Regions from separate parts of the Homo sapiens genome. Here all the other regions are linked to region 3. The links come from fine-mapping of genetic effects on gene expression. A gene starts in region 3. Each other region holds a variant in brackets. All regions are shown on one strand. Distances are between the middles of the regions. Region 1 overlaps BCL2L13 (BCL2 like 13). Region 2 overlaps BCL2L13 (BCL2 like 13). Region 3 holds the start of BCL2L13 (BCL2 like 13).

Region 1 (10,796 bases), 52 kb after region 3:
TCTCCTTAAAGAAACACAATACACATTAGCAGCCACTTCCCATTCCCACTAGCCCCAGGCCCCAACCCCACCCCACACCAGGCACCCACTGATCTCCATTCTGTTTTTATTGATTTGCCTATTCTGGAAATATACATAAATAGAATAGTTCACTATGTGGTGGTGGTGGTGGTGTTTTGAGATGCAGTTTCGCTCTCATTGCCCAGGCTGGAGTGCAGTGGCACCATCTCGGCCCACCACAACCTCCATCTCCCAGGTTCAAATGATTCTCCTGTCTCAGCCTCCTGAGTAGCCAGGATTACAGGTATGTGCCACCAAACCTGGCTAATTTTTTGTATTTTTTTTTTTTTTGACAGAGTCTGGCTCTTTGCCCAGGCTGGAGTGCGGTGGCGGGATCTTGGCTCACTGCAAGCTCCGCCTCCTGGGTTCAGGCCATTCTCCTGCCTCAGCCTCCCGAGTAGCTGGGACTACAGGCGCCTGCCACCACACCCGACTAATTTTTTGTATTTTTAGTAGAGACGGGGTTTCAGCGTGTTAGCCAGGATGGTCTCGTTGATCTCCTGACCTTGTTTTCTGCCCGCCTTGGCCTCCCAAAGTGCTGGGATTACAGGCATGAGCCACCACGCCCGGCCTGTAATTTTTTGTACGTTTAATAGAGACAAGGTTTCTCCATGTTGCTCAGGCTGGTCTTGAACTCCTGACCTCAGGTGATCCGCCCACCTCGGTCTCCCAAAGTGCTGGGATTAAAGGCGTGATCCACTGCGCCTGGCCACTATGTGGTCTTTTGTGACTGGCATTTTTTACTTAGCATAATGTATTTTTGTTGTTGTTGCTGTTTTTTAAGACATCGCCTTGCTCTGTTGCACAGGCTGGCATGCAGTGGCATGATCTGGGCTCACTGCAACCTCCGACTTTAAGGTTCAAGCAATTCTCCAGCCTCAGCCTCTTGAATAGCTGGGATTACAGGTACCCACCACCACGCCCAGCTAATTTTTGTTTTTAGTAGAGACGGGGTTTCACCATATTGGCCAGGCTGGTCTCCAACTCCTGACCTCAAATGATCCACCTGTCTCGGCCTCCCAGAGTGCTGGGATTACAGGCGTGAACAACTGCACCTGGCCGACTTAGCATAATGTTTTCAAGGGTCATCCATGTTGTAGCATGTATCAGTACTTCATTACTTTTTACAGTCAAATAATATTCCACTGTGTGGATGTGTCATATTTTGTTTATTCATTCATTAGTTAATGGAAATTTAGGTTGTTTCTACTTGTTTACTATTATGTATAATGCTGCTGTGAATATTCTTGTGCAAGTTTTTGTGTGGACATATATTGCCCAATAATTTTTTCTTTTTCTTTTTTTTTTTTTTTTTTTTTTTTTTTTTGAGACAAAGTCTCGCTCTGTTGCCCAGGCTGGAGTGCAGTGGCGGGATCTCGACTCACTGCAAGCTCCGCCTCCCAGCTTCACGCCATTCTCCTGCCTCAGCCTCCTGAGTAGCTGGAGCTACAGTGCCCACCACCACACCCAGCTACTCTTTTGGTAATTTTTAGTAGAGACGGGGTTTCACCGTGTTAGCCAGGATGTTCTTGATCTCCTGACCTCATGACCCGCCCACCTCAGCCTCCCAAAGTGCTGGGATTACAGGCGTGAGCCACCGTACCCAGCCTGCCCAATAATTTTTAATGATCAAAATTATAAATTATGTTCATAACTCATGTTCCTCGTTAGTAGAGAAAAAACACAGATAGAAATGTACAAATAATCCCGAGACCAGGTGCGGTGCCTGTAGTCCCAGCACTTTGGGAGGCTGAAGTGGGTGGATCACTTGAGGCCAGGAGTTTGAGATGACCCCAGCCAACATGGTGAAACCCTGCCTCTATAAAAATACAAAAAAATTAGCCAGGCATGGTGGTGCACACCTGTAATTCCAGCTACCTCGGAGGCTAAGGCATGAGAATCTCTTGAACCCAGGAAGCATAGGTTGTAGTGAGCCAAGATCATGCCACTGTACTCCAGGCTGGGTGACAGAGTGAGACCATTTAAAAAAAATGAAATGTACAAATAATCCTGAAACCTAATGTTAGTCTTGTCTTTTATATTTCTTTTTTTTTCTTTTTTTTTTTGAGACAGAGTCTCGCTCTGTCACCCAGGCTGGAGTGCAGTGGTGCGATCTCAGTTCACTGCAACCTCCGCCTCCCGAGTTTAAGTGATTCTCCTGCCTCAGCCTCCTGAGTAGCTGGGATTATAGGCGCCCGCCACCATGCCTGGCTAATTTTTGTATTTTTAGTAGAGGTGGGGTTTCACCACGTTGGTCAGGCTGGTCTCGATCTCCTGACCTTGTGATCTACCCGCCTCGGCCTCCCAAAGTGCTGGGATTACCGGTGTGAAACACTGTGCCCGACCATTATATTTCTTTATCAACATTTTGAAATGATTAAATTTCTGATTCTCTTCATGTATATTCTGGTAACAGCACTGCTGCATAGTAAAATGGGCAAAAGGTAGAAAGAAGAAGAGAGTAACAAAAGGTTTAAAATACGTTCACTTATTGAACCCCATATTATCTAAGTTAGACCATTAAAATGGATGCTCTCCAGCTTGCTCAAACAACAAAGTATTTGTGAACTTTGCAGCCATTTGCATCTTTCTCGGAGGCAAGCACTTTATAAAGAAACACATACTTTATAGTAAAATTTGCAGCCTTATAGGAGTAAGCGTTAGATTAATGCAATAAATACTTAATGCAGATGACGGCTAAATCTTGGGAGTGGGTGCAAGCGGCCTGCTTTCCTGGTAGCTGATGCCTTGCATCGCATTTGTACTCTGGAACAAGTTACTCTGCTTGCTCTTCCTGCAGTTAGGGAATGGTTAAGTGTCTACAACAAGTTATGACTGCTTTTTCTGGATTCAAGTTTTATTTTATTTTTATTTAATTAATTTGGTTATTTTTTGGGGAGACAGAGTCTCACTTTGTTGCCCAGGTTGGAGTGTAGTGTCATGATCAGGGCTCACTGCAGTCTTGACTTCCTGGACTCAAGTGATCCTCCTACTTCAGCCCCCCAGTAGCTGGGACTATAGGCGTGTGCCACAGCACCCAGCTATTATTATTATTATTATTTTCTTTTTTTTGAGCCAGAGTCTCGCTCTGTCACCCAGGCTGGAGTGCAGTGTCGCAGTCTCGGCCTACTGCAAGTTCTGCCTCCTGGGTTCACACCATTCTCCTGCCTCAGCCTCTCAAGTAGCTGGGATTACAGGCGCCCGCCACCAGGCCCAGCTAATTTTTTTGTATTTTTAGTAGAGACGGGGTTTCACCGTGTTAGCCAGGATGGTCTCGATCTCCTGACCTCGTGATCTGCCCGCTTCAGCCTCCCAAAGTGCTGGGATTACAGGCGTGAGCCACCGCACCCGGCCCCTTTTTTTTTTTTTTTTGAGAAGGAGTTTCACTCTTGTTGCCCAGGCTAGAGTGCAATGGCACAATCTTGGCTCGCTGCAACCTCTATCTCCCAGGTTCAAGCGATTCTCCTGCCTCAGGCTCCTGAGTAGCTGGGGTTACAGGCATGCACCATCACGCCCGGCTAATTTTTGTATTTTTAGTAGAGACGGGGTTTCCCCATGTTGGTCAAGCTGGTCTCGAACTCCTGACCTCAGGTGATCTGCCCAGCCTTGGCCTCCCAAAGTGCTGGGATTACAGGCATGCGCCACCGCGCCCGGCCTTAATATTTTGTATTTTTAGTAGAGATGTGGTTTTGCCATGATGCCCAGGCTGGTCTCGAACTCCTGGACTCAAACCATCTGCACACCTCAGCCTCCCAAAATGCTGGGATTACAGGCATGAGTCACTGTGCTCGGCTTCTGGTTCAACTTTTATACTTGTTTGTATAATCTTCATATAATAGTTTGAAAATTTATCCATGTGTAGTAATATTAAGGTTGAAAGTTCATTTTAATAAGGAAATGAAAGCAATGGACTCATCCTCTGAGGATGATTAGAATCTGATATAAGTGCCAGTTTTATAAATGTAAAACAAAATCTTAAAAACAGAATTTTAAGAGAAGGATAATAGAGCCAGGAATTGCTTCTCATTTATCATTATTATACTTGTTGGTCAGTAATCATAAACTAAATTGATTAGCTTATTATAACATGTCAGTTTAGTTGTTTCTTTTCTCTTAAATCTAAGCTTTTTCATTAAAACCTAAAAGAACCTCTAAATTTATGACCTATCAATGTTTACGTGCCAACAAAGATTAATGTCCACAATGATTATCTGACCTTTTTAAGTGGCTTGTAATGATTAGCTTGTTCCTAATAGTGGGTGTCTTAATCCTGTGGCCTTTTATAGCGCAACTTTTGATATTGTTGTTTTTTTTTTTTTTTTGAGACGGAGTTTCCCTCTTGTTGCCCAGGCTGGAGTGCAGTGGCGTGATCTTGGCTCACCACAACCTCTGCCTCCTGGGTTCAAGTGATTCTCCTGCCTCAGCCTCCTGAGTAGCTGGGATTACAGGCATGTGCCACCACACCCAGCTAATTTTATAGATATTGTTTATTATATTAGGTTTTTCTTTTGTCCTATCTTCAGCCTTCACCAGCACAGGCTTTGACCGTCACACTTCTCCAGTGTTCAGCCCTGCCAATCCAGAAAGCTCAATGGAAGACTGCTTGGCCCATCTTGGAGAAAAAGTGTCCCAGGAACTGAAAGAGCCTCTCCATAAAGCATTGCAAATGCTCCTGAGCCAGTGAGTTACACTGCTGAGTGGGATGTGCTTCTTTAAGTAGTCTCTGGATCTCTCATGCAGCACTGGATTGGTTAGGGCTGTGTTTTAGGTGAACAGTGTCACTTCTTTTCTCACTTTTCTTTACATTTTCTTCATTTTCTTTCCCAAAGCATCTCTGTGTTTTGAATGACAGCTTTGCTTTAAAGGAGTGATTTAGCTATTCCAACATAGATTTGTTAATTTGTATTTATATGTTGAGCTGTCAGGTTTCACCGAATGCTTTTACCAAGTAGTAAATACAAGCTATTTCACTTCCCCAGACCACTTTTTACTGCCATTTCCTCTAGT[C/G]GTGACATGAATATAATGGCTAGCGTTTTGTGCGTTGTAATGTGGGATTAACATTATATCTGTATTTTAGAATTCTGTATTTAACATTTTATTGACCGGGCGCGGTGGCTCACGCCTGTAATCCCAGCACTTTGGGAGGCCGAGGTGGGCGGATTATGAGGTCAGGAGTTCAAGACCAGCCTGGCCAATATGGTGAAACCTCGTCTCTACTAAAAATATAAAACTTAGCCGGGCATGGTGGCGCATGCCTCTAGTCCCAGCTACTCGAGAGACTGAGGGAGGACAATCACTTGAACCCGGGAGGCAGAGGTTGCAGTGAGCCGAGATCCTGCCACTGCACTGCAGCCTGGGTGACAGAGCGAGACTCCATCTCAAAAAAAAAAAAAAAAAACCCAAAAAACCGTTATATCTGTATCCCAGAAGTTGCTCAACTTTAGGGTTGCACATCTGCCAATGGAACTGCTTCTACATTCTTATAGAAGGAACTTCTCTCCTAGCTATGGTTCTGACCATATTAAAGCTAAAGGCAAGAAGCTAGTAATAAGGAAAGTATTAAAATAGAACCAAATCATTTATTATAAATATTAAAAATCAGCCTGTAATCCCAGCACTTTGGGAGGACGAGGTGGAGGTATCACTGGAAGTCAGGAGTTGGAGACCAGCCTGGCCAACATGGTGAAACCCCATCTCTAGTAAAAATACAAAAATTAGCTGAGCATGGTGGCAGGTGCCTATAATCCCAGCTACTCGGGAGGCTGAGGCAGGAGTATCGCTTGAACCCAGGAGGCGGAGGTTGCAGTGAGCTGAGATCATGCCATTGCACTCCAGCCTGCATGACAGAGGGAGACTCCATCTGAAAGAAAAAAATTTTTTTTTTATTTTCCTGTAAGCAAAGTATATATCGATTACCGTTTGTTAGAAGAAAGTAATTTGGGTTTTAGGAGAATTTGATTTTTTGTTGCGTAGTATTGTGAAATGAGCAAATGTAAAAATACTAATTATGCTTAAACAGTGAAATGAAATCGTATTTGGTAATCTCAGTACTTTGGGAGGTCCAGGCGGGAGGATTGCTTGAGGCCAGGAGTTAAAGACCAGCCTGGGCAATATAGCCAGACCCTGTCTCTACAAAAAAAATGTTTAGAAAATTAGCCAGTGTGATGGCATGTTCCTGTAGTCCCAGCCACTTGGGAGGCTGAGGTGGGAGGATCACTTGAGCCCAATAGTTTGAGGCTGCAGTAAGCTATGATCACACCACTGTGGCACTCCAACCTGGGCAACAGAGCAAGACCTTGTCTCTAAAAATAAAAATTAAAAAAGTCGTATTTGGATTTTCTTAACCTAATATATAGTAAAATTTAAATATAAATATGGAGAGAAGTATATGGGTGTTGGGAAATAAAACTTACACAGGAAATTTGGATTTACAGCAGTTGTTTTCAAAAAGTGTTCTATGGAGCCTTAGGCATAGAGGTGCTGCAGGGGTCCTGAAGAAGTGAGGGATAGTAAGTGGGTTAAGCTCATTAGGGCCTCTCCACTCTTCTTTCTTTTTTATTTATTTATTTATTTTAAATTTTTTGTAGAGACAGGGTCTCACTATGTTACCCAGACTAGTCTTATAACTCCTGGCCTCAAGCAACTCTCCCACCTCAGCCTCCCCAAAGTGCTAAGATTACAGGTGTGAGCCATTGTACCTAGCCTTATTTATTTATTTTCCCACTTTTCTTAACCAGAGCACGTGTACTTTCATATATTTTATATTCTGAGGTTACATCTAAGACTTGAAGAAAGAAATTTGCTGCTTCACTCCTCTCTCCACAAAAATGTAAAAGTTATCTGGACCAGGAGTAAAATAATGAAGTGAAAGGTGCAGACTTTTAAAATAATCTTTTTGTCCTGGCTGGGCGCGGTGGCTCACGCCTGTAATCCCAGCACTTGGGGAGGCCGAGGCGGGCGTATCACGAGGTCAGGAGATTGAGACCATCCTGGCTAACACAGTGAAACCCCGTCTCTACTAAAAATACAAAAAATTAGCCCAGCATGGTGGTGGGTGCCTGTAGTCCCAGCCACTCAGGAGGCTGAGGCAGGAGAATGGTGTGAACCTGGGAGGCGGAGCTTGCAGTGAGCCGAGATTGCACCACTGCACTCCAGCCTGGGTGACAGAGCAAGACTCTGTCTCAAAAACAAAAAAAAAAGAATCTTTTTCCAAATTTGATACAGACTTTGGCTTGGAGCAAACCATGTCACCCTTAATATTTCAGTTCTCCATGTGTTAATTTTAACTTTATGGTGTAGTATAAGCTCTTCAAAAAACAGTGTTATGTAAGTTTTTAAAAGTATTGTTTCTGAAGTCCTTTTTATGATCTACAGGAAAAATTGATGTCTTCTCACAGCAAATTCTATTTAAAGGAGAATTGGCTTGGACAAATGTTTATTTTTTTCCCAAATCTTGATAGAATTATTTTTGAAATTGGTTATGTATCAAAGTCAGGTCTCTTTCTTTTTTCAGAAATCTGTTTTTAGAAGTTTTAAGCTCTGTTACTAGTACTTTGAAAATAACTAATGGATGATAAACTACATAAACTAGAAGTATTATAAACGTTGAAGGCAGTATCGTAAGGTAGAAAATACCACTGATTCCTCCAAAAGGTTTTGTTAATGTAGGAAGTTATTGCTGAACCCTTCTTACAGAAGAACAACAGCTGTTTCAAAAAGGTATCCTGCCCCGCTCTTTTCTTCTTTGCTCTATTCTAATAGCTCACTAGGTAGGATTGGTTATTTAGCTACTTACTTTTCTATGTATTTGATTTCCTTTGAATGTTTTAATCTGCTGCATTTTTTGTGCATGTATGTCTGTGTATATGATGTTTCAAATCATGTTTCATTCAGAACGATGCTAAAATACTTTAGCCTGGTAGACAAACAACCAGTAAGGACTACTGTGACCCCCAGCAGCACCAAACAGTTCAGGAAAGGAAGTGAGGGGACTGATATATGCAAGTAAAGCTTCAGGGAAACTATAGGTAGGTAGACTGTGTAGTATCTGCTGAAGTTCAAGGTTTACACGAATCTGCTACTTAGCCCAAGGCATCTGAAAAGTACTAGGCTCACTTTAATGGGAAGGTGATGCCAGGAAGATAGCATATGCTGTATACATTTCATCATTACAGAGGCCATCTCTGGTATCTCATTTCCTTTCAGCATCACTGTAGTATTGATTTGATACAGACTTAGGTGAAAGAATGATGCCTGTGTCATCAGGATTCTTTTCTGAAATATCTAGACCAGTGCGATTCAATGCAAGTCACATATAATGTGGTTTTAAAATGTAATTAAAAACTAGCAGCCAAGTAAAAAATAAAATGAAATGTAAAATTTTTAATATTTTATTTAGCCCAGTACATCTAAAATATTTCAACATGTATTCAGTACAAAAAATTATCGAGCTATTTTGGATTGTTTTTTCTTCCTCATTGAAATCTAGTGTGTATATTATACTTTCAGCACACTGGCCACGTTTCTAATGCTCATTAGCCACATGTGACATCGAGACATTGTCATGGCATGTGTCAGAATCTTAACTTGAAATGGGAGTAGTATAATGGCCTTTGATACCAGATCTGAGTGTGAATTCCTGCCTTGCTGCTTTCCGGCTATGTGGGTTTGGGATAATTTCTTAGCTTTTCTGAGCTTTGGTTTCCAAATATGTGATATAATAATATGTAATATAAAATATAAATATATGAAATATTAAAACCTAACATAATAAGCTACCAGTAAGTGGTAGCTATTATCAATCTTAAATATTCTTAAACTAAGGAAGTCATAGGTCACAGTGGACAGAGCAGAAAAATGCCTTTGGGGTAGTTTATTTATTTATTTATTTATTTATTTATTTAGTGTTTGTTTTTTTTTTTTTTTTTTTTTTTTGGAGACGGAGTCTCGCTCTGTCACCCAGGCTGGAGTGCAGTGGTGCAATCTCGGCTCACTACAACTTCCGCCTCCCGGGTTCAAGCAATTCTCCAGCCTCAGTCTCCTGAGTAGCTGGGATTACAGGCATGCGCCAACACGCGCAGCTAATTTTTGTATTTTTAGTAGAGACATGGTTTCACCAGGTTGGCCAGGCTGGTCTTGAACTCCTGACCTCAGGTGATCCACCCACCTCAGCCTCCCAAAGTGCTGGGATTACAGGCGTGAGCCACAGCACCTGGCTGGGGTGGGATTTTAAAACTCTGCAAAAGCAAGACTCCTTCTCTTCTTTCTTTCCTTTTTCTTTTTTTTTAATTTGAGATGGAGTTTCGCTCTTGTTGCCCAGACTGAAGTGCAGTGGCGCAGTCTCGGCTCAACTGCAACCTCCACCTCCTGGGTTCAAGCCATTCTCCTGCCTCAGCCTCCTGAGCAGCTGGGATTAGAGGCGAGTGCCACCACACCAGGCTAATTTTTGTATTTTTTTTTCTAATTTTTGTATTTTTAGTAGAGACGGGTTTCACCATGTTGGTCAGGCTGATCTTGAATTCCTGACTTCAAGCGATCCACCTGCCTTGGCCTCCCAAAGTGTTGGGATTACAGGCGTGAGCCACTGCACCCAGCCCATTCTTTCTTAACATGTTTGTTAATACTTTGCCCAAAAGGAGGGAAGGTAAATTTTTAATCTATTAATTTTTAATTAATAGATTTTTTTAATTTTAAATCTGTTATCTGAACAATTGATGCCTTCATATGTTACTTGGTCCCCAAGTCTTTTGTTTTTAAAATTTATGCATGAAACCGTGCTTTAAATAAAGTACTTGAAGTCACTCAACAAATGAGTGAGTGTTGTTAATGATTCGAGTTTTTGGTATGACTAGGACTTACATAGAAATAATCAGAAAGGCTTATCTCTCTACCCTTGTATCATAACACTCCAAGTTAAAAATAGGACTCCAGCTAGGGGTGGTGGGACAGGCCTGTAATCCCAGCTAGCACTGAGGCTGAGGTAGGAGGCATCAGTTGGGCCCAAGGAGTTTGAGACCATCCTGGGCAACATAGGTGACTCCATTTAAAAAAAAAAATTTTTTTTTAATTTTTAGTCTTGCACTGTCTTGCACTGTCACCAGTGCAAATATTTCAACATGTATTCAGTACAAAAAATTATTGAGCTATTTTAGATTGTTTTTTCTTCCTCATTGAAATCTAGTGTGTATATTATACTTTCAGCACACTGGCTACGTTTCTAATGCTCATTAGCTACATGTGACATCGAGACATTGTCATGGCATGTGTCAGAATCTTAACATCCAACAGGCCAACAACTGTGGTGAGGTGCCATTGATTATCAGATGAAACCTGATTTCAAAATGTTAAAATGCAGGTGGTGGGGAAAATGTGTGTCCCTGAATCTACAACCGTCTTCCCTGATTCTGTTTTCAGTCTGTGGTCAGAGAGATCTGAGTTCAAATCCCAGCCACACCACTTCCCAGCTGTAGGATGTATTAATTGAGGTAGGCTGAGATTTGCTGCAATCCCTCAATCTCAGTGACTTCACGAGAGAAAAGTTCCTTTGGCGTCATGCAAATCTGCTACAGGTGTGGCCACGTAGCAATGCGAGGAACCACTTGGAACTTATGGTTCCAGGACCTCAACACAGCCTCGTCTACCACCATCAGGGCAAGAAAGAGAAAGAGACTGGATAATTACAGAAAGTCTCTTCCTGCTTCAGCCAGGAAGTGGCACCCATCACTTCCACCCACATT
Region 2 (10,796 bases), 91 kb after region 3:
AGGAAAAGTTTGTAAATTACCTTCTTTAGCCAAGGGAGGGTATTGTTTCCATTTGTTTTCACTTCCTTATTGTCCCATCCAGTTGGTATTTTAGAATAGCTCTTTGTCCTACCACCATACCACCAAAAACAACAATTAAAATGACAACACAAACAATAGCAAGTTATGAAATAGCATAACTTACTGATTACTTCCTATGTACAAAGTACTAATCTAAGCACTATAAATACTATACCTCGGGCCGGGCGCGGTGTCTCACGCCTGTAATCCCAGCACTTTGGGAGGCCGAGGTAGGTGGATCACGAGGTCAAGAGATTGAGACCATCCTGGCCAACATGGTGAAACCCCGTCTCTACTAAAAATACAAGTATTAGCTGGGCATGGTGGCGTGCACCTGTAGTTCCAGCTACTCGGGAGGCTGAGGCAGGAGAATCACTTGAACCTGGGAGACGGAGGTTGCAGTGAGCCAAGATTGCACCACTGCACTCCAGCCTGATGACAGAGTGAGACTCCGTCTCAAAAAAAAAACAAAAAAAAACAAAAAACAAACTATACCTCATTTTAAAAATGAACTCAAGTCCAGGTGTGGTGGCTCACACCTATAATCTCAGCACTTTGGGACACTGAGGTGGGAGAATTGCTTGAAGCCAGGAGTTTGAGACCAGCCTGGGCAACATAGAGAGACCCGTCTCTACAAAAAATAAAAAAACTTAGCTGAGTGCAGTGGCCCATGCTGTTATTCCCAGCTACTCAGGAGGCTGAGGCTAGAGGATCCCTTGGGACCAGAAGGTTGAGGCTGCAGTGAGCTGTGATCCTGCCACTGCACTTCAGCCTGTGTGACAGAGCGAGACCCCAACTCTAAAAATACAACAAAAACAATCTTATCTAGTCAGTCATCCCCATTTTATTTGTGAAGAAATTGAAGTCTAAAAGTTTAAGCAAGGTATCCAGATTCGCACAGCTGGTACACAGTTGGAGCTGGGATACAAGCCAGTTGTTTTTGACTGTGAATTTTGTGGTCATACTGTATTATTTTAACCCCCTGATTATTCCATACTCATAGAACATCCTTGATGCTTACCAGGGCCTCTGAAGTGGCTGGAGCAAGGGTCGAGGTAGAAAGTGGTGCAGTATGATGCCGACATCATGGTCGTGTGATTTATTTGTATTTCTTATTTCCTTTTTTATGGGGCTGATAGACTTTTGATTTATGTTAGATCCTTGATGTATGTAGAAAGTTTTTGGTTTTGGTTGAAGAATGAAATTATCCTACTTCAGTTGAATAGCAACCATAATCATAAAATGAAGTAGAAATTAATTTGCTTTACATATTCCATTCAGATTCCCTGTAGCTTTTACGAGTGTTGTCTAGCCTTTGTATGACAATTTCTGTACATCTCTGTGACATTCCATTCCATTGGTTCTCTTCCTGTCCTTTTATTGCGCCTTACCCTCTGGGTTGGCCTAGCCCCTTGTGCATACACCTGTCATAAAGCTTTCTGTATCATATTGAAGTTAGTTATTCATATGTCAGGCTTCACAGCTGCCTAGTAAATTCTGTAAGAATAGACCCATTCTTTCTCGTAGCCCTTGTGCCTGACACAACCCTGATAAGCAGTAGGCACACGGTGGCCTGTTATTAATAGACATGGACACAAGGCCTGTGCTGTAGGGCTTTATTGCTTTCACTCAGACTTCCTGACAAAAGAAGCAAGAGTCTCCGTGTCTGCAGCATTTCTCCATTCTGTCTCTGCCATCAGAGGAATTTTAAAGCAAAGCTCTGATTATAATTTTGTACCTCAGAGATGTCAGTGACAAACCATCGCCTGTTGGATAAAGTCCATATTTCTTAGCTGTCATTCAGGTTCCTCCATGGTCCTGTCCTCACTGACCTTCTATTCTTCATGGGCACTCTGCATTAATTAAACAGGGCTCTGTCCTTATCTTCTTTTTTTTCTGTCTCTGTGCTTTTGCCTGCATTGTGTCTTCTGTGTACCCTTCGCCTGCCAAAATCTTACCCATTCTTCAGATGTCTGATAGAAATGCTAGTCCCTCCGTGAGGCTTTCTGTGATCTCCCTGCTTTCTCTGACCTCTACCCAAAGAGGTCTTTTTCCCATCTGAACTTTTTTTCTTCTTCTTCTAAGGAAAGCAACACTGCCATATGAACTCTTAATGGCACTTGGACTATGACATAGCATTATTTGTATACCCTACTAAGTGATAAATTCCTTGAGCACAAGGTCTTGCCTTTGTTTTCTCTGCTGTTTTGCATTAATTACTGCATTGAACATACAGGGTGAGTATCCCTTATCCAAAGTGCTTGGGATCAGAAGTGTTTTGGATTTTAATTTTTTTTTTTTTGATTTTGGAATGTTTGTGTGTATGTGATGAGATGTCTTGGGGATGGGAAAGCCCAAACATGACATTTACTTCTTTTTGTATGCACCTTATACATATAGCGTGAAGGTAATTTTATATAATATTAATATATTAATTTACAAATATACAATATTTATAACATAAATATATATAATATTTTGTGTGCATGAAGCAGATTTTTGACTGTGTTTTGCCTGCAACCCACCACATGAGGTCAAGTGTGGAATTTTCCACTTGTGATGTCATTTCAGCACTCAAAAAGTTTCGGATTTTGGGCCGGGCACAGTGGCTCACGCCTGTAATCCCAGCACTTTTGGGAGGCCAAGGCGGGTGGATCACTGAAGGTCAGGAGTTCCAGACCAGCCTGGCCAACATGGTGAAACCCCATCTCTACTAACAATACAAAAGTTAACTGGGCGTGGTGGCAGGTGCCTATAATTGCAGCTACTGGGAAGGCCGAAGCAGGAGAATCGCTTGAACCTGGGACGCGGAGGTTGCAGTGAGCTGAGATTGTGCCACTGCACTCTAGCCTGGGAGACAGAGCAAGACTCCATCTTAAAAAAAAAAAAAAAAAAACCTCAGATTTTGGATCATTTCAGATTTCAGGTTTTCAGATTAGGATGCTCTCAGCCTGTGTGTGAATTACACTGAATGTATATTAACTTAGGATTTTTTAGTTTCAAGGAGACTGCTCAGAAGACTGTCAAAAATTCTTTCTCTGCATTGGCCTACAAATACATGCATTCCATTCGGAAACTATGTAGGTTTAAACAGTGTTTCATTCCTAGAACTTCAGTTTAGGAAAGAATTTGCTTTCCAGATTGATGTTTATGTTTTAAATAGTTACCATTCTTTATTATTGACGCTTGTCCTTCGTTTCTAGGGCACTGTGTTTAGTCTTGAGTCAGAGGAGGAGGAATACCCTGGAATCACTGCAGAAGATAGCAATGACATTTACATCCTGCCCAGCGACAACTCTGGACAAGTCAGTCCCCCAGAGTCTCCAACTGTGACCACTTCCTGGCAGTCTGAGAGCTTACCTGTGTCACTGTCAGCTAGCCAGAGTTGGCACACAGAAAGCCTGCCAGTGTCACTAGGCCCTGAGTCCTGGCAGCAGATTGCAATGGATCCTGAAGAAGTGAAAAGCTTAGACAGCAACGGAGCTGGAGAGAAGAGTGAGAACAACTCCTCTAATTCTGACATTGTGCACGTGGAGAAAGAAGAGGTGCCCGAGGGCATGGAAGAGGCTGCTGTGGCTTCTGTGGTCTTGCCAGCGCGGGAGCTGCAAGAGGCACTTCCTGAAGCCCCAGCTCCCTTGCTTCCACATATCACTGCCACCTCCCTGCTGGGGACAAGGGAACCTGACACAGAAGTGATCACAGTTGAGAAATCCAGCCCTGCTACATCTCTGTTTGTAGAACTTGATGAAGAAGAGGTGAAAGCAGCAACAACTGAACCTACTGAAGTGGAGGAGGTGGTCCCCGCACTGGAACCCACAGAAACGCTGCTGAGTGAGAAGGAGATAAACGCAAGGGAAGAGAGCCTTGTGGAAGAGCTGTCCCCTGCCAGCGAGAAGAAGCCCGTGCCGCCGTCTGAGGGCAAGTCTAGACTGTCCCCCGCCGGTGAGATGAAGCCCATGCCGCTGTCTGAGGGCAAGTCTATACTGCTGTTTGGAGGGGCTGCTGCTGTTGCCATCCTGGCAGTGGCCATCGGGGTAGCCCTGGCTCTGAGAAAGAAATAGGAGGCTTTTCAGAAGAGAAAGACAGAAGGATGTAAGGTTGGAGTTGTATTGGCTGGAATTTGAACCTCCAGCAGCTGTCTGGACATTTGTGGAACACTCTGGGATAATTGGGGACTTCTGCTCAACATGGCAGTGGCATGTTAGGCATGTTAGGGCTTGAGGTGGGGCATTCACATTCATCTGACTGTAAATCCCAAGGGCCTCCGCTCATGCTAAATTGAGAATCTTAGGGGTAAAGCACCCCCTCCAGGACCGGGTTTCTCAGCCTTGGCACTAGTGCTGTTCTGACCATTCTCTGTGTTGGGGCTGTCCTGTGTGTGGTGGGCTCCACCCACTAGATGCCAGTGGCACCCCCTCCCAGAGATGACAAACGAAAATGTCTCTAGACATTGCCAAATGTCCCGTGTGAACATCCCCTATTGAGACCCACTGCTTTAGCGAGAGAGGGTTTACTTAGGAAGAATTGGGATAGAAATTCCCAGCTGAGAGAACTTAGCTGTGGGCTCCTCAGCTACTGACTTCTTAGCTCTTAATCCCCTTAGAATTTCATCTTTCTCGATGAGC[A/AGGCTG]GGCTCTGCACCCACTCTTTTTTTGCCCCCCGCCCTCATCCTGGAGTGTGAGGGTGCTCGCCCGTACTCTCAGCTGCCTCTCAGGGACTGCACTGTTCCTCTTCACCCCCAGGTTCCTGCTAAGATCCCACGGGCGAGGGCTTGCTCTGGACTCAGTCTGTCAAGTCCCCGAAGCTTCCTGCAGCTCCACCTTGTAAAAATGCTGCCTTTGGGAATCTTCGAAATATGTACACAGAGAAAATCACATGAAGGAGACCTGGGGTCCCCACTTGTGAGTGCAACTGCAAGTAACTCTGGCTAGAGAGACACATGTGTCTTGTGTCAAGGCAGGAGGATAACCTGGATGACCTTCTGAGGTCTCTTCAGCCCTTTTCGCTAGTGGTCACCCACCACCATGGTTACTTGCCAGCAACATCTCTATTGCTGGATGGTCCCTGTCTATAACCTTGGGCTAGTATATTTTTTCCAATATGGGACCTTAGTCTTACTACTGATGAGTTCTATGGGTCTCTTGCTAGGGGGTAAGGATTTTTATTCTTGGGCTTATAGAGCCAGTTAGATCATAATTCTTATGAAATAGAGAGTGTCCTAAATATCACTGAAATAAAAAGTAGGAAAAAGAAGCTTGAATTTTAAGACTGAGGCTGCTCTGCAGATTCTAGTTTGGCTTTCAGAGTTCAAGAGTGGTGGCATCTTCACCTGAATTCTTCAATGCCAGGGTAATAAACCAAAATAGTCCTAATCAGTATATGCTAGTTGAGCATCGGCATAATTTTCTTTCCTCTGGCTGATCCCAGCCCTAAAGGAAGGGTAGACCCGTGTCTTTCCAGCCCTAAAGGAAGGGTAGACCCGTGTCTTTCCAGCCCTAAAGGAAGGGCAGACCCGTGTCTTTCCATGCCCGAGGGCCACGACGTCACTATGCAGGGCACACGTGGCTTGGTTTAAAAAGGTCATCTTAGATTTATCTTAGTAAATGTAATAAATTATTTTTTAGATCTTGAAATTTATAATAAAAATACTTTACCTACCCTGATCACCAAAACCTGATGTTTTAAATGTGCTTTCTTTTTGAAATTTATGTTTTCAAATAAAATCTCCCTAAAGCAATATTTAAAAATTGGTCAAAACAAGGTCTGGGAGTATGTTTGTGTGTCTTTCCAGCTTTATCCTGTAGCGTGTCTTTGTTCTGTGTTTTAGTGTCCCATTTAGGGAGTGATGTTTTAAGGGTTTTTGTGTACTTGGATTAAGTAATTAGAGGTGAGTGGGGGGAATGGGATTATTGAGGCAATGATTTTTTTCTTCATGGGCTCTGATAGTTGCATTGATTGTTCTGTATTCTAATTGCTATATTTGTGTTTGCATAGGTGAAGAGCAAACTGGTGCGTTATCTTGATTTTTAAAAAGTAATAAATCCTATGAGTTCCAGTATTAACACTTGCCAGTTCTGGATCCTCACACCCATTGGCTGAGCGCATTCAAGCACCAATCGAAGCCAGGTTCATCTCTGAGCTGCTGAAAGGAGGTGTGAGGCTTAGGAAATTGGAGCCTGTGTTGCCCACGAAAGGAAAGAATAAGGAAGAAATGTGGTATGGAAGCGGCTACTTGCTGCTTTATTTTCCCACCTGTTAGACATTCCTCCACAGTGATTTGGCCAGTTGTATTTCACGGTAATGGAACTAGATAGTGTTTTCCATTGGCTTTCTCTGGTAGCTCTTGGTCAGCTCCTGAGTTAACAGGATGTGGCAGCATCCCTGTTCTTCCTTCACGTCCTCACCCTCTGCCTCCAGCAGTGGAAGGGAACAGCCCTCATGAGGACTGCTTCCTACTGCAGCTCCTGCTTTTTGCTCATACATTTAAAAAACTATTTCTCAAGCTTCCCCTCCTTTTGGGGGGAGGAGCTGATAGTAGGAGGCCATTCCTTCCACCTCCAACTTATACCCTCTAAGTCTAAGGTGAAGGAAAGATTCAGAATAAATCCAACTTGTTTATAGAAAAGTTCTTGTTAGTCCTTAGACCTCATCTCAACTGCTCTGTTGAAGGTAATGATTTATTGGGGGGAAAAAACAACGCCAATTTATCCTCTCTGTATTAAAGTGATAATTCTGGGCCCACAGAAATCAGTCAGTACCTGCGGTGTGCCTTAAGGGGACTCTCATGATCATCATTCCCTTCTAGAGAACATTCTAGATGAAGAAATGCAACTGTTGACCTTCTGGTTCACCCATCTCCCCCTCGAGGCATTCTTGATACCCCTTCTCACCTGCATTTCTGTCCCAGGGATACCAGATGCAGCCACTACCTAACTAGGCTTGTCCTGGGGGAGTGAGCCGTGAACCTGGAGACATGGCTTTGACCCACAGCTACTGTTCATTTCCTCAGGCTTTGCGCTGATTCCCTCAATAATATGACAGTAAGGCAAGTAGTCTCCTTGCCTTTCTCCTGAAAGGTATGAGATGTGGACATTTCAGTGTTTGAATTATTTTAAGAGATGTTTTATAGAAATAAAACGTTTTGTAGCTAAGAATTTTCCCTTTCTCTTAATTTCTTACATCTTTCCACACAAACTTATCTTTCCAAGAATTTGAGGTGGTGATCATACCCATCAAGACGGCCTTGTAGGCTATCTGATTGCTAACAGACACGACCTAGAGCTTCTGCCCAAATTCCCACACAAGCATTATCTCGTTTAACATCTCAGCGACATACTGGATACCAGAATAATGTTTCCTCTTCTCTGGTGCACCAAAACCTGCCCTTAGTGATAATCTCTCAATTATGACATTCATTTGAGTTTAGGGTGTATAATTTTTCCTAAAAAAAATTCATGTCGATAATTATATTTTAGCAAATACTAGTTGAGCATTTATAACATGCCAGAGACGGTTCTAGTGCTCTCACATACCTTATTTCACCTTCACAGTTCTAATAGCTGTTTGTATTCCTTTTATTCCCATATTACAGAATGAAGAACCTAATCAGAGTTTGTTAGTTTTTCTTTTTCCTTTTTTTTTTTTTTTTTTTTTTTTGAGACAGAGCCTTGCTCTGTCGCCCAGGCTGGAGTGCAGTGGCACAATCTCGGCTCACTGCAAGCTCCGCTTCCCGGGCTCACGCCATTCTCCTGCCTCAGCCTCCCAAGTAGCTGGGACTACAGGCGCCCGCCACCATACCCGGCTGCTTTTTTTGTATTTTTAGTAGAGACAGGGTCTCTACTATGTTAGCCAGGATGGGCTCGATCTCCTGACCTCGTGATCCACCCGCCTTGGCCTCCCAAAGTGCTGGGATTACAGGCGTGAGCCACCGTGCCCGGCCCAGAGTTAGTTTTTCTAACGTCCTCAAGCATAGGCGAGGCAAGGCAATGATTTTGCCGGTTTTTATCATTTTCCTGGCACTGCAAAGCAGTATTGGCAGGTCCCCTGCAAACAGTTGCGCCAGTTGTTTACTGCATAAGGACTGACTGGGGACAAATTCCGACGTGCAGCCTGTGCTCTGCTCACCATGCTGTGGGCTCTGGGAGAAGCGAAGTATTTTTCTAATTTGTACAAAGGCACCATATAGGCTCACTTAAACATTAAGCATGTTCTACTACAAAAAAACAAGAGTGAGGGTTAGGTCCAGGACTGGTCTCAGCTTCCAATTATGTAGCTGTTTTCCCTGTAGACATTGAGTGAGATGCTTTGTGGTTACAGAATTCACAGTCATTGCCGATGAGCTTTCATTAGCTTTCTTGATTAAATATTTTTGCTTGTAGACAAGGTTAGGCAATCTGTCCCAGCAGTTATCACAAAGTGCTAAATGAGGGGGGTGAAGACAGCACCACGATGCATTTCTTGGTCTTTTTCTGTTTGTTCGAGTTCGTCCCTTCTCCCCTGTGTATGCCATCATAAGGGTGGGGCTGTGGAGTGAAGTAGGGGAATACCTGGAAGCATTGCTTGGCCTCTGGACAGACAAAGAGGTTGGGGACTTAGGAGGGTTGACCAGGTATGGCCACAAGTACGTCAGCTCCTGGAGGATCTTCCCAGTGAAAAGCCTCCTACTACATTCCACAGCACTTCATGGTAATTATAACCTTGGCTAGATAATACCTGCTGTATGGTACAGAATAGTGACATTCAATTACCTCATATATAAAGAGAGCTCCATGGAGAGCTGGAAAGTGCATGCCACTACAATATTAACACATCCCATCTTCCCTTTCTTTTTGCAAGGCTGTTGAATTTCAGCCCGGCATCCCCACACACTAACACCATCAGGTCTTCCACATTTGATGGTTACACCACAGGAGCCCACACCAGACTGCTGCTTCCCTGTGAGCTCAGAGTGAAATTGTTCTCAGGGGTATTTGCAAGGCCTTGTCATCAGTTAAAGACTAGCAGCTGACTCCAGGTGATTCTACCCCGCTGTCACCTCTCCAAAGGGGAAATTGAATAGTGGTATTGCTCACTGTGGTGAGTGTTCTTTGCACCACCAGAAGAAACTGGTTAATGAATGTACTATTTAGAAGAAAAGTTTTGACATTTAAAGATTACTAGTTGTTCCCTTTCCCCAGGAAAAGAAGGTCAAAGTACAGTCTTCCCTGTTGCAGAGTTTGGAATAACTCTGTTTGCCCTGATGCTTTCCAGCAGGAGAACTGTATTATGTAGAGGGGTCCTTGGCCAGCATCAAAGGAAAAAAATTATTTTTTTCCTAGACCTGTATTTTTCCTATTACAGTCTTCCATTTATTTCTTCCTCCAGATTAAAAGTGCCTCTTCCTACCTCATTCCTTAATTAAGGTCAATTTAGTGTTGGCTCAAATGCTTTCATCTCAAAAATACCGGAATTGAATGGTAATTTGGATAATTAAGTTATCGTGCATTTTAAGCAGCATGTGTTTCCTTTTTCCGTGTGAGTTCCATGAGCCTCTGCACTGCCGCTCTGCACTGCTGAACTGATCACTGTGGGTCATTCTGGCTCCTCTTCCTTCCTGTCATCTACCTTTTGGCCAATCTACTCTTCATCAGGGGAAAGGAACAAACTTCAAATCTGTGAGTTATTCTTTCTGTCAGAAGCAACGTGCTAGAGAGAATACATGGGATTTGAAGATAATCAGTGGACTCATCTTTCTATCCACATGGTAACTATGCCCTTGACAGGTGGTATCATTTCACATCATCAATTGTCTTTGTTAAGTCCATACTTAATTGGTTTGACTCCAGGTTTTGAAAACAAGATCGTAACATTCAAAGGACTCTATATTCCAATTCTCAGCTAGCACAACTAATAAAGTTGCTGGACAGTAAAACTAGGCGCCAGTGCTGTGATCCTTTAAGGAAGCCTTGAGTATCGCAGCAGTTAATGCTGGGTCCTAAGAGGAGAGGTCAGGAATGATTTGACCTTCTGAATGCACCAAATGTCCCACGTGACTTTCAGATACACCAAGCATCTTTTCAAGGAGAAAGCTTTTGATGTTTAACAAAAGAATTTCCATCACTTAATTCAAATATTTTTAAAACAGAAAGGAAAACACATTCTCTGAATTAAAGTCACCTTTGAATCATATCCACAAGGATTGTGTTACAGGGCAAAATCCACCAACTGCCAGGATATGCCCGAGTCACCATGGCTGGGAAGTGCTCAAGACTGGAACATTTGTGTTTGAGACAATGGAATCTTTTTATAATGTTGGCTTTGGGAGAAGGGGTGACGGTCTTGCTTTACAACCAAGACTATCTCAGACTTGGTCTGGAAGAATTTACACTAAGACCTGTTATAAAATGGTGGCCTACTGTATGAATTCAAGTGAAACAGAAGCAGGTGAAGATGCTGTGGAAGAGTCAGTGTGTGAGAGAGGTGGTCCAGAGTCACTTGCTGCTTAAGAACACTTTCCCATTAGTTCCGGGTGATGACTGCATACAGCTCCTTTGGGAAGAAAATGCCTCCCCCAGTGAGAATCTGATTATAATGGCTGACGTATGGATGGATGTGTAGGCGCAGTGTGGTTCAACCTGTTTCCATTGTGGTTGGAAAACTTTTTTAAAAGTCCACTCCAAAACATGAAAAGTCGTAGTGTTAGGAAGATTTATTTCCAAACAGTGGCCTCCACACTGCGCGGCAGCACTTCTTTTTAGTATTT
Region 3 (10,796 bases):
CCTTAACTTGATCACTATTGAGCTAAACTAGATTGGATTATTTGTCTAATTTTGTTCATCTTTTGCATTAATAGCCTCATTCTTCATTGTCCTAAAAAACAGATTGCAGGAGTATGGAATATGCTAGAGGACTATTCTACCCTCTAGCATCCCTAGGTCAGGTTGAGGTGGAATTAACACATTTTGATTACAATCTCTCCTGTATTTTTACAGTGTTCTGCAAATGACAGGATTTGGGGAGTAGAAACAGCAGTCTAATTCTACATGTCAAATTGTTTCTGAAATTAATATCTGGAATGGATGTAGCACTGTCTAGATCAACCGTGCTTTTGTTTTTTGGAAAACAGTGTGATAATCTTTATGATTCTTCTTCTTTTTTTTTTTTTTTTTTGGAGATGGGAGTCTTGCTCTGTCACCAGGCTGGAGTGCAGTGGTGCAATCTTGGCTCACTGCAACCTCTGCCTCCCGGGTTCAAGCAATTCTCCTGCCTCAGCCTCCCGAGTAGCTGAGACTACAGGCATGTGCCACCATGCCCAGCTAATTTTTGTATTTTTAGTAGAGACAAGGTTTCACCATGTTGGCCAGGTTGGTCTCGAACTCCTGGCCTCAGGTGATCCACCCGCCTCAGCCTCCCAGAGTGCTAGGATTACAGGCATGAGCCACTGCGCCTGACCACGATTTACTTATTTTTATTTTGAGACATTAGAAAATACAAAAAAGTACAAAGAATAATTTATTCCCATACCATGCACCACTACCCAAAATTAACAATTAACATTTGTCACATTTACTTCAAGACTTCACTTGAAAAACAAATCGTAGGTATAGTTACTATCCCCTTTTGCAGCACCCACTTCTCCCCCATGTTAGTTTCTCTTTAAAACTCAATTTTCTTCAGTTTTGCTGATTCACCAAGGAACAGGCCAGGTCCTGTCTGAAAAGAATGTAAGCTTTACAGAGATAACCTCTGAAGGGAAAAAGTTGTTATGAATACATGCAAAGATGAGCCAGTTGGTAGTTTTCCAAATGTAATTTTCTCCTACATTCTTAGGCCTTGTGGAGACACTTTAAAACATATTTTCAGACAAGTTTCAAAAAACTCCCTCCTAGATAAGCCTATTTGTGGCTTCACCAAAGTCACTGGCCTAGATTCCTGTCAGGTTAGTCAGAAAGGGACGGTTCATGTGCTCTCACCTACTCCCAGGCAGGTTTACTAGATACTGAATCAGCAGGATAAATAAGCTAACTCTGGAGTTTGCTCAGGAGGACAAAGCGCGAAAGACTAGAAGTAAATGTAAATCATCTGTCTTTAAATGTTGAGCAAATAATTTGAAAAGGAAAAAACAAAGTGTAGCCAAAAAATAGTAACTCTAACTTAGGTGTCTGCACTTTTTGCCTCTTTCCAGCCAAATTTCTATGCTACAGTGATTTAAAACCTAGATGGCAGATGGCATCAAGTCACTCCCCAATTTACAACTCTGTCATGGCTTCTGCTTGCTCCTGAAGCCTTCCGCTGGCTCTAGTAGATGAGACCACTGGATCTGGCCCTGTATGCTTGCCTGCCCTCATTACCCCTCCTCCCTTTGCACACCACCTCAAAGCTTTACTGGTTGCCTTTCAGTTTTTTTGAAAACATCTATTTTTCTGCTTGAGAAGTTATTTTCCTCCACTTACCACTTAACTTGTTTTTCATCCTTTAGGTCTCAAAATCTCTTTGAGGAGAGCTTATCCTGGTCACTCTCTCACCTTCTTCTCTATTCCAGTCCCTTGTCTGTTTCAGGACATGCCACCACCTTTTTTTTGTTTGTCTTGTTTTGTTTTTTTGAGACGGAGTCTCACTCTGTTGCCCAGGCTGGAGTGCAGTGGAGTGATCTCGGCTCAACACAACCTCCACCTCCCAGGTTCAAGCCATTCACCTGCCTCAGTCTCCCGAGTAGCTGGGACCACAGGCATGAGCCACCATGCCCGGCTAATTTTTTGTATTTTTAGTAGAGACGAGGTTTCACTATGTTAGCCAGGCTGGTCTGGAACTTCTGACCTTATGATCCACCTGCCTCAGGCTCCCAAAGTGTTGGGACTACAGGCGTGAGCCATCGCACCCAGCCCATGCCATCATCTTAAATTATTTTTACTTTTTTCTGTTTCAATGTTTTTCTTTTCTGGTTTTCCAACTAAGATGTTAGCTTCACAAGAGGGACCGCGTCTGATGTACTCATCATTGCTTTTGCTAGCACCCAGCACCCTGCCTGGTTAATGGCAGGGATTCAATAAACAATTGATTGGCCAGGCGTGGTGGCTGGCACCTGTAATCCTAGCACTTTGGGAGGCTGAGGCAGGCGGATCACTTGAGCCCAGGAGTTTGAGACCAGCCTGGGCAACATAGTGGGACACCTGCCTCTACAAAAAAAAATTAAATAAATTAGCCAGGCTTTCTGGTGCATGCCTGTAGTCCTTGCTACTTGGGAGGATGAGGCCAGAGGATTGCTTGAGCCTGGGAAGTCAAGGCTAGAGTAAGTCATGATCACATCACTGTACTCTAGCCTGGGTAACAGAGTGGAAGTGGAGACTCTGTCTCAAAAGGAAAAAAAAAAAAAAAGCAACAAACAACTGATGAATGCAAATGAATAAAATGAGTAGAGTCTAGTTTAGAGTCGATAACCACATTAGCCTGTAGGCTAGAGATCTGTAGCGCCTATTAAAATCTGTCCAAAACTCCCCCGAAAACTGACCAGGTGCAGTGGCTCATGCCTATAATCCCAGCACTTCAGGAGGCCAAGGCAGGTGGATCACTTGAGGCCACAAGTTCAAGACCAGCCTGGACAACACAGCAAGACGCTATCTCTACAAAAAAAAAACTAAAAAATTAAATAAAAAAGGGCCGGGTGTGGTAGCTCACACCTGTAATCCCAGCACTTTGGGAGACTCAGGCGGGCGGATCACAAGGTCAGGAGTTTGAGACCAGCCTAGCCAACATGGTGAAACCCCATCTCTACTAAAACAAAAGCAAATTAAATAAAAAAACTCCAAATACCATAAACTGCTGTGATTAAAGTCAAATGATTTCTATAAAAGGGCTATATTATTTTATGCAATTTGCTGAAAAGACAATCTCTTTCCTCATTGAAATGCCTTAGCACTTCTGTTGAAAATTAGTTAACAATTCTAGGTTTTCTGTTCTGTTCCATTGACCTGTATGTCTAGTCTCAAAATATATATTCAAAAAATAAAATTAAAAAGGGAAGGCCAGGAACTTTAGGAGGCCAAGATGGGAGAATTGCTTGAGGCTAGGAGTTTCTGAGCAGCCTGGGGAACATACCCATTTCCACAAAAACAATCTTTTTTTTTTTTTAGACAGAGTCTCACTCTGTCGCCCAGGCTGGAGTGCAGTGGTGCGATCTCGGCTCACTGCAACCTCCGCCTCCCGGGTTCAAGTGATTCTTCTGCCTCAGCCTCCCCAGTAGCTGGGACTGAAGGTGCGCGCCACCATGCCCAGCTAATTTTTTGTATTTTTAGTAGAGACGGGGTTTCACTGTGTTGGCCAGGATGGTCTCCATCTCCTGACCTCGTGATCCGTCCCCCTTGGCCTCCCAAAGTGCTGGGATTATAGGCGTGAACCACCACGCCCGGCCTACAAAAACATCTTTTAAAAAGTAGCCATGTGTGGCCTGGGGCGGTGGCTCACGCCTGTAATCCCACCACTTTGGGAGTCTGAGGTGGGTGGATCACTTGGGGTCAGGAGTTCGAGAGCAGCCTGGCCAACACACTGAAACCCCGTCTCTACTAAAAATACAAAATGTAGCCAGGCATAGTGGTGCACACCTGTAGTCCCAGCTACTTTGGAGGCTGAGGCAGGAGAATCACTTGAGCCCAGGAGGCTGAGGTTGCAGTGAGCCAAGATCTGCCACTGCACTCCAGCCCAGGCAACAGAGGGAGACTCCGTCTCAAAAAAAAGAAAAAAAAAAAAAAAAGCTACATGTGGTGGCACAAGCCTGTGGTCCTTGATACTTGGGAGGCTGAGGTGGAACAATTGTGAGCCCAGGAGGTCCATGATGCAGTGAGGTATGATTGTACCACTGCACTCCAGGCTGGGTAACAGAAGCGACACCTTGTCTCTAAAAAAATAAATAAGACCAGGCATGGTGGCTCACGACTGTAATCCCAGCACTTTGGGAGGCCGAGAGGGGTGATCACCCAAGGCCAAGAGTTGGAGACCAGCCTGGCCAACATGGCGAAACCCTATCTCTACTAAGAATACAAAAAAAAAATATTAGCCAGGTGTGGTGGTGGGTGCCTGTAATCCCAGCTACTCAGGAGGCTGAAGCAGGAGAATCGCTTGAACCCAGGAGGTGAGGTTCAGTGAGCTGAGATCGCGCCATTGCACTACAGCCTGGGTGACAGAGCAAGACTCTGTCTCGAGAAAATAATAATAAAAAATAAATAAATAAATAAAGGAAAAGACTGAGAGCAATGTGAAAGAAATGAACTTAAGTATGTACCAAATTGGTAACATAAGTACCTCCCAAAATAAATTATTGCATGTTACATTTTTGAAAGTTTTTTTAGGTAAAGTGTACATACAGTGAACTGCACAGACCTTAAAAGTAAAATTAGGGCCGGGCGCGGTGGCGCACCCCTGTAATCCCAGCACTTTGGGAGGCTGAGGCAGGCGGATCTCTTGAGGTCAGGAGTAGGAGACTAGCCTGGCCAACATGGTGAGACCCCGTCTCTATTAAAAATTTTTAAAAAGCCAGGCACGGTGGCTCACGTCTGTAATCCCAGCACTTTGGGAGGCCAAGGCGAGTGGATCACCTGAAGTCAGGAGTTCAAGACCAGCCTAACCAACGTGGAGAAACTCTGCCTCTACTAAAAATACAAAAATTAGCTGGGCATGGTGGTGGGTGCCTGTAATCCCAGCTACTTGGGAGGCTGAGGCAGGAGAATCGCTTGAACCCGAAAGGCAGAGGTTGCAGTGAGCTGAGATCGCGCCCCTGCACTCCAGCCTGGGCGACAGAGTGAGACTCTGCCTCAAAAAAAAAAAAAAAAAGTCTTCATTTTTGGTTACCCATTTCACTGCAACCTTTGCCTCCCAGGCTCAAGCGATTCTCCTGCATCGGCCTCCCAAGTAGCTGGGATTACAGGCGCGTGACACCATACCTGGCTAATTTTTTGTGTTTTTAGTACAGATGGGGAGTTTCACCATGTTGGCCAGGCAGGTCTGAAACTCCTGACCTCAAGTGATCCGCCCACCTTGGCTTCTCAAAGTGCTGGGATTACAGGAGTGATCCACCACACCCGGCCTGTACTATTAGTTTTCCAAGGTCACTAAGCCTTTCCTTTGCAAAACTTTATGTCCCTATTAATGGCACCATCCTTTCCTCAGTCACTCGGGCTTAAAAAGCATCCTGTGGCACCAGCCCCACAATAGCAGTTCAACTCTTTTATCACTTCCTTTAGAATAGCCTTGTTGAGATATAGATCTCATAACATAGAATTCACCTATAGTGTACAATTCAGTAGTTTTCAGTATTTCAAAGAGTCGTGCCACCATCACCCCAAAAAGAAACTCTGTATCCACTGGCAGTCACTCCCCATCAGGATTTTATCACTTCTGATCTGGCTCAGTCTTCTAACTCCTTATTGTCAATGCCCTCCTTGTTCCAATTCAGTACACACACCACGGGCAATTTGATCTCCCTAAAACACACTGTATCCTCTCTCCTAGATACCTTCCGATACTCCTCCAAAGAACTCTCGGATTCAAGTAAACAAACATCCATTAATACAAGTTAAGTATGTTCCAGGCGCTGTGTGTTCCAGGTACTGTTAACAAAAGCGGGTTACTAGTTAAGACTTCCTTCATGCCCTGGCGCCTCTGCTCAGCCAGTTCCCTTCGCCTAGGAGGACCTCTCTACACCACCCCGCTATATTCCCTCCCCGGAATTCCTTCCCAACCTTCAAGGACCATCTGCCCCAACTAGTGGCGAACATCGAGGCTGTCGTGACTGTGTAGATACTTATTTGACCTGCTCCCTTGGCAAACACTTGAAACGCAATACATGTTTGTGGAACTGAACATAGCCTGTGCATGCAGCAAGGCTTCTTTCCCTGGAATCGCCTGCCCTTCCTCCAACACAGCGACCAGCCGGTCAGAATCCCAACCCCTCGACTCCGGAAATGATCTGAGAGACGGAACTTCCGAACGTCGCAATCAGATTTGGGCGGGCTAGGAGGGTTTGGGTCTTCAGGTCACATCTGGACGGAGAGACCTCCGGGGCCTCCGTTGGTCGGTCCTTCCGCTCCGGATACCGTTCCGGATGTCAGGTAGTTCAGGTCCCGCCCCGACGCCGGCCGTGACGAAGGCACGCCGGGGTGACCTCACCCTCCAACATGGCGGCGGCGGTAGATTAGGGCCGCGGGTCGGAGCACTCACCGCCGCTGGGGGACCCTGTCGGAAGCAACTGCCGCCGCCGCCTCTTTCATCTCTTCTGGGGCAGGGGCCAGGGCCAGGTGAGGGGAGTGGGGTTCCGGGAAGGCTGAGCTGGGTGAGGAGGTGGTTTTCACCTGGGTAGGAAAGTGCCCAGAGACCGTATCGAGCCACCGACTCCCCAGTGGTTCCGACGACGCGTGAGTTTGAGTGTGTGTGTCTACACCGGCGCTCCTTCGCCCGAAGGTGCTCGGAGCTTAGGGGTCCGCTTCACCGTGACCGGACCTGGCCGCGCGGCCCCGCCGCTGAGCAGGCTTCTTCCGGCGTGGGGTGCCGGAGGCGGAGGAGCTCGGCCCTGGCTCCACGCCGCTGTCCTTCCCCACAGACAGCTTCACGTGGAAAACCCGGGTCCATTTTTAGGGCTAAACTGGGGAACGGCGACTTCTTTTTGGTTGAGGGAAAGGTTTTCCTGCGATTCACTTAGAACACTGGAAGATTAGCTTTGCCAGTCTTAGTCGTTTCTTCTCAGAGATTGTTAGAAGTCTTGTTTCTTAACCTTAATTCACTGCTGTTCTGACACCTATTTTTTCAGAAAAAAACTGCCTTCTTGCCCTTGGAGGCAGTACAGTTCACACGGAGTCATTTTCCCCCTTTGATTTATCCTCCCAACATTCTGTAAAGATCCTATTTCTTGCCTTCATAACCGACTTTCTGAGTGGAGGCTCTAACCTAGCGTTGAAAATCGGACGGATCTGGCCAGTTGTTCACATGCTGTTGACTGCTGGCTTTGGTTAGCTCTTAGCCACTCCCTGCACAAGTGTTTGTTTATTCAAAATAGCTATCTCACTGTCTCTGTTTAGAAGTTTGAACTAAGCTGAGAGCCCTCCCTCCTTACTTTTATTTTTTTGTTGTTGTTGCGTAAAACAAAACAAAAACTTCTTTGGCGAAATTATAAGATTTCCTCTGGAGGTTTAGTATAAAGCAGAATGTTGCTCTCTGCCCTGACTAGTGTGACCTTGGATGAGTTGCCACACCCTTCAGATACCTTCTTTCTTTTTTTTTTTTTTTGAGACAGAGTTTCCCTCTTGTTGCCTAGGCTGGAGTGCAATGGCGCGATCTCAGCTTACCGCAACCTCCGCCTCCTGGGTTCAAGCCATTCTCCTGCCTCAGCCTCCCGAGTAGCTGGGATTACAGGCATGCGCCACCACGCGGGGCTAATTTTGTATTTTTAGTAGAGACGGGGTTTCATCATGTTGGTCAGGATGGTCTCGAACTCCCAATCTCTGGTCATCCCCCCGCCTCAGCCTCCCAAAGTGTTGGGATTACAGGCGTGAGCCACCGCGCACGGTGATACCTTTTTTTCAACCACCCCCGCGCCACCGCATGAAGTATTATTTTCATTTTTAACACCCTCTCTCCCCCAAGTGAAGTATTCTTCATTTGGTAATAGGCAGTTAAGGGTATTGAAAATCTTTTTACTAGGAATGGTCAGGTACTGTTCTGTATTTTTTTTCCAATGGCTCATTTTTTATGTGGAAGAGTATATTCAGTAGTTGGATTCACTTTTTATTTTATTTTTAGTTGTCTCCTACAGCAAGGACCAGTAGTTGAATTCAATTGAAAGATGCCTAAGGCTATATCTAACCAGTCTTGTAAAAAAACAGACTTGTGTTTACTAGCACATAATCTAATCAACATGTATTAAATATCACACACATTAAGCTTTTAGGACAAGTGGTTTGCAACAGTAATAATCATTAACAACATTTCATTTGGCTGTTTGCGATGGCTCACTGTAATCCCAGCACTTTGGGAGGCTCAGGCAGGAGCATTGCTTGAGCCCGGGAGTTCGAGACCAGCCTGGGCAACATAAGGAGACCTTGTCTTCACAAAAAATTAAAAAAAAAAAAAATTAGCCAGGCATAGGTCCCAGCTACTTGGAAGACTGAGGCGAGAGGGAGGACTGCTTGAGCCCGGGAGATCAAGGCTGCTGTGAGCTGTGATTGCTCCACTGTACTTCAGTCTGGATGACAGAGACCCTGACTCAAAAAATATATATATGTTTGTTTATTAATTTTTTATATATATATATATATTTTTTTTTTGAGGCGGAGTGTCGCTCTGTCGCCCAGGCTGGAGTGCAATGACACGATCTCGGCTCACTGCAAGCTCTGCCTCCTGAGTTCACACCATTCTCCTGCCTCAGCCTCCCGAGTAGCTGGGACTACAGGTGCCCGCCACCGCGACAGGCTAATTTTTTGTATTTTTAGTAGAGACGGGGTTTCACCGTGTTAGCCAGGATGGTCTCGATCTCCTGACCTCGCGATCTGCCCGCCTCGGCCTCCCAAAGTGCTGGGATTACAGGCATGAGCCACTGCGCCCGGCCTAAATAGATATGTATTTTATTGTGAAATACTTCAGGCATACAAAACACAAGTGTTAAACATTCACTTAGTTCCAGTCTGCATTTATCATTTTTTAGACAGGATTTTGATTTGTATCTTATTCCAAATAAATGTTCACCAAGAGTTCTTGTTTAATATATATACAAAGTGGGGGTGGGTGGTATTTTCAGATTGGTTTATTTTTTTTTCTTGTTCTTCCTCAGACGGTAATGTGCCAATAAGCCCATGAGGCAACATGATTTGAGGGAGGCACATGTCATGCATTAGCATGAAACCCAGTCATCTTGGTTCTTTATGAACCGCAAAAGGATTGGAGTAGCTGATTTTTTTTAACAACTTTATTGACATATAATTAACGTACCATACAACTCACCATTGTACAATTCAGTACTTTTTAGTATATTCACAGAGTTGTGCACCCACCACCACAATCATTTTCATCACCTCAAAAAGAGACTCCCATACCCATTAGCAGTCATTCTTTATTACTGGTCCTCCTACCCCCACCCTTGGGCAACCACTGATCTACTTTCTGTCTATGGATTTGCCTATTCTGGAGATTTCACAAAAATGGGATCACATAATATGTGTTTTTTTTTTTTTTTTTTTGAGAATGAGTCTCACTCTGTCGCCCAGGCTGGAGTGCAGTGGTGCCATCTCGACTCACTGCAAGCTCCGCCTCCCGGGTTGACGCCATTCTCTTGCCTCAGCCTCCTGAGTAGCTGGGACTACAGGCGCCCGCCACCACGCCCGGCTGATTTTTTGTATTTTTAGTAAAGACGGGGTTTCACTGTGTTAGCCAGGATGGTCTCCATCTCCTGACCTTATTATCTGCCCATGTCGGCCTCCCAAAGTGCTGGGATTACAGGTGTGTGCCACCGCGCCTGACCAATATGTGGTCTTTTGTGTCTGGCTTCTCTCTTTTTTTTTTTTTTTTTTTTTGAGACGGAGTCTCACTGTCGCCAGGCTGGAGTGCAGTGGCATGATCCCACTGCAACCTCGGACTCCCAGGTTGAACCTAACTCAGTCCCAAAGTAGACTGAGACTGTAACTCAGTCTCAGTAACTGTAACTCAGAGTAGCTGGGATTACAGGTGCGTGCCACCACACCCAGCTAATTTTTGTATTTTTAGTAGAGACGGGGTTTTGCCATGTTGGCTAGGCTGGTCTCCAGCTCCTGATCTCAGGTGATCCACCTACCTTGGCCTCCCAAAGTGCTGGGATTACTGGCGTGAGCCACCACGCCCGGCCTGTCTGGCTTCTTTCACTTAGCATAATGTTTTCAGAGTTTATCCAAGATGTAGTGTGTATCAGTACTTTATTCCTTTTTATTGCTGCATTCTATTCCATTGTGTGGACATACCACATTTTAAAAATAAGTTGATGGGCATTTTTTTTTTTTTGAGATGGCATTTCACTCTTGTTGCCCAGGCTGGAGTGCAATAGTGCCATCTCAGCTCACCTCAACCTCTGCCTCCTGGGTTTAAGCGATTCTCCTGCCTCAGCCTTCCAAGTAGCTGGGATTATGGGCACACACCACCATACCCAGCTAATTTTTTTTGTATTTTTTGTAGAGATGGGGTTTTTCCATGTTGCTGAGGCTGGTCTCAAATTCTTTGACTCAAGTGATCCTCTTGCCTCTGCCTCCCAAAGTGCTGGGATTATAGGCATGAACCACCACACCTGGTCTGTAATGCTGCTTTGAGCATTCATGTGCAAATTTTTGTGCAGATGCGTTTTCATTTTTCTCTGGTATATATCTGGAAGTGGAACAGAGTAACTGAATTTTATGTCCTCCATTTACACAAGCCATATACAGGAAGCCTAATTATTGTGAAAGTCAGATTATCTAGGACGGGATGAAAGTAAGGCAGTTCTCTGAATTATCTGCAAATGCCAACTGCTGAGTGAAAATATTTTTGGGTAGCTCTAACACAAGATTGAACAATTAGGCCTGTTTTAATTGGA

The links. PIP is the estimated chance that this variant, and not a neighbour inherited with it, causes the effect.
Region 1: its variant is fine-mapped to the expression of BCL2L13 in whole blood (TOPMed, PIP above 0.99).
Region 2: its variant is fine-mapped to the expression of BCL2L13 in tibial nerve (GTEx, PIP above 0.99). The same link has a PIP of 0.9 or more in sigmoid colon.

Annotation. Positions count from the first base shown.
Region 1 is chr22:17,684,403-17,695,198 of GRCh38, forward strand. It overlaps BCL2L13 (BCL2 like 13), which reads left to right. Exons shown (of 7, transcript NM_015367.4): 4 at 4,584-4,740. Among named protein-coding and RNA genes, the nearest start is that of BCL2L13, 51 kb to the left of the region's middle. The variant C/G (reference allele first, on the strand shown) is at 5,068.
Region 2 is chr22:17,723,414-17,734,209 of GRCh38, forward strand. It overlaps BCL2L13 (BCL2 like 13), which reads left to right. Exons shown (of 7, transcript NM_015367.4): 7 at 3,264-7,442. The coding sequence ends at 4,121. It overlaps BID (BH3 interacting domain death agonist), which reads right to left. Exons shown (of 6, transcript NM_001196.4): 6 at 10,725-10,796. Among named protein-coding and RNA genes, the nearest start is that of MIR3198-1, 35 kb to the right of the region's middle. The variant A/AGGCTG (reference allele first, on the strand shown) is at 4,686.
Region 3 is chr22:17,632,380-17,643,175 of GRCh38, forward strand. It overlaps BCL2L13 (BCL2 like 13), which reads left to right and starts at 6,378. Exons shown (of 7, transcript NM_015367.4): 1 at 6,378-6,507. It also overlaps the pseudogene LOC124905160. RefSeq lists a silencer at 2,395-2,626 and enhancers at 4,643-5,515, 5,516-6,387, 5,940-5,989, 6,040-6,219, 6,340-6,619 and 1 more.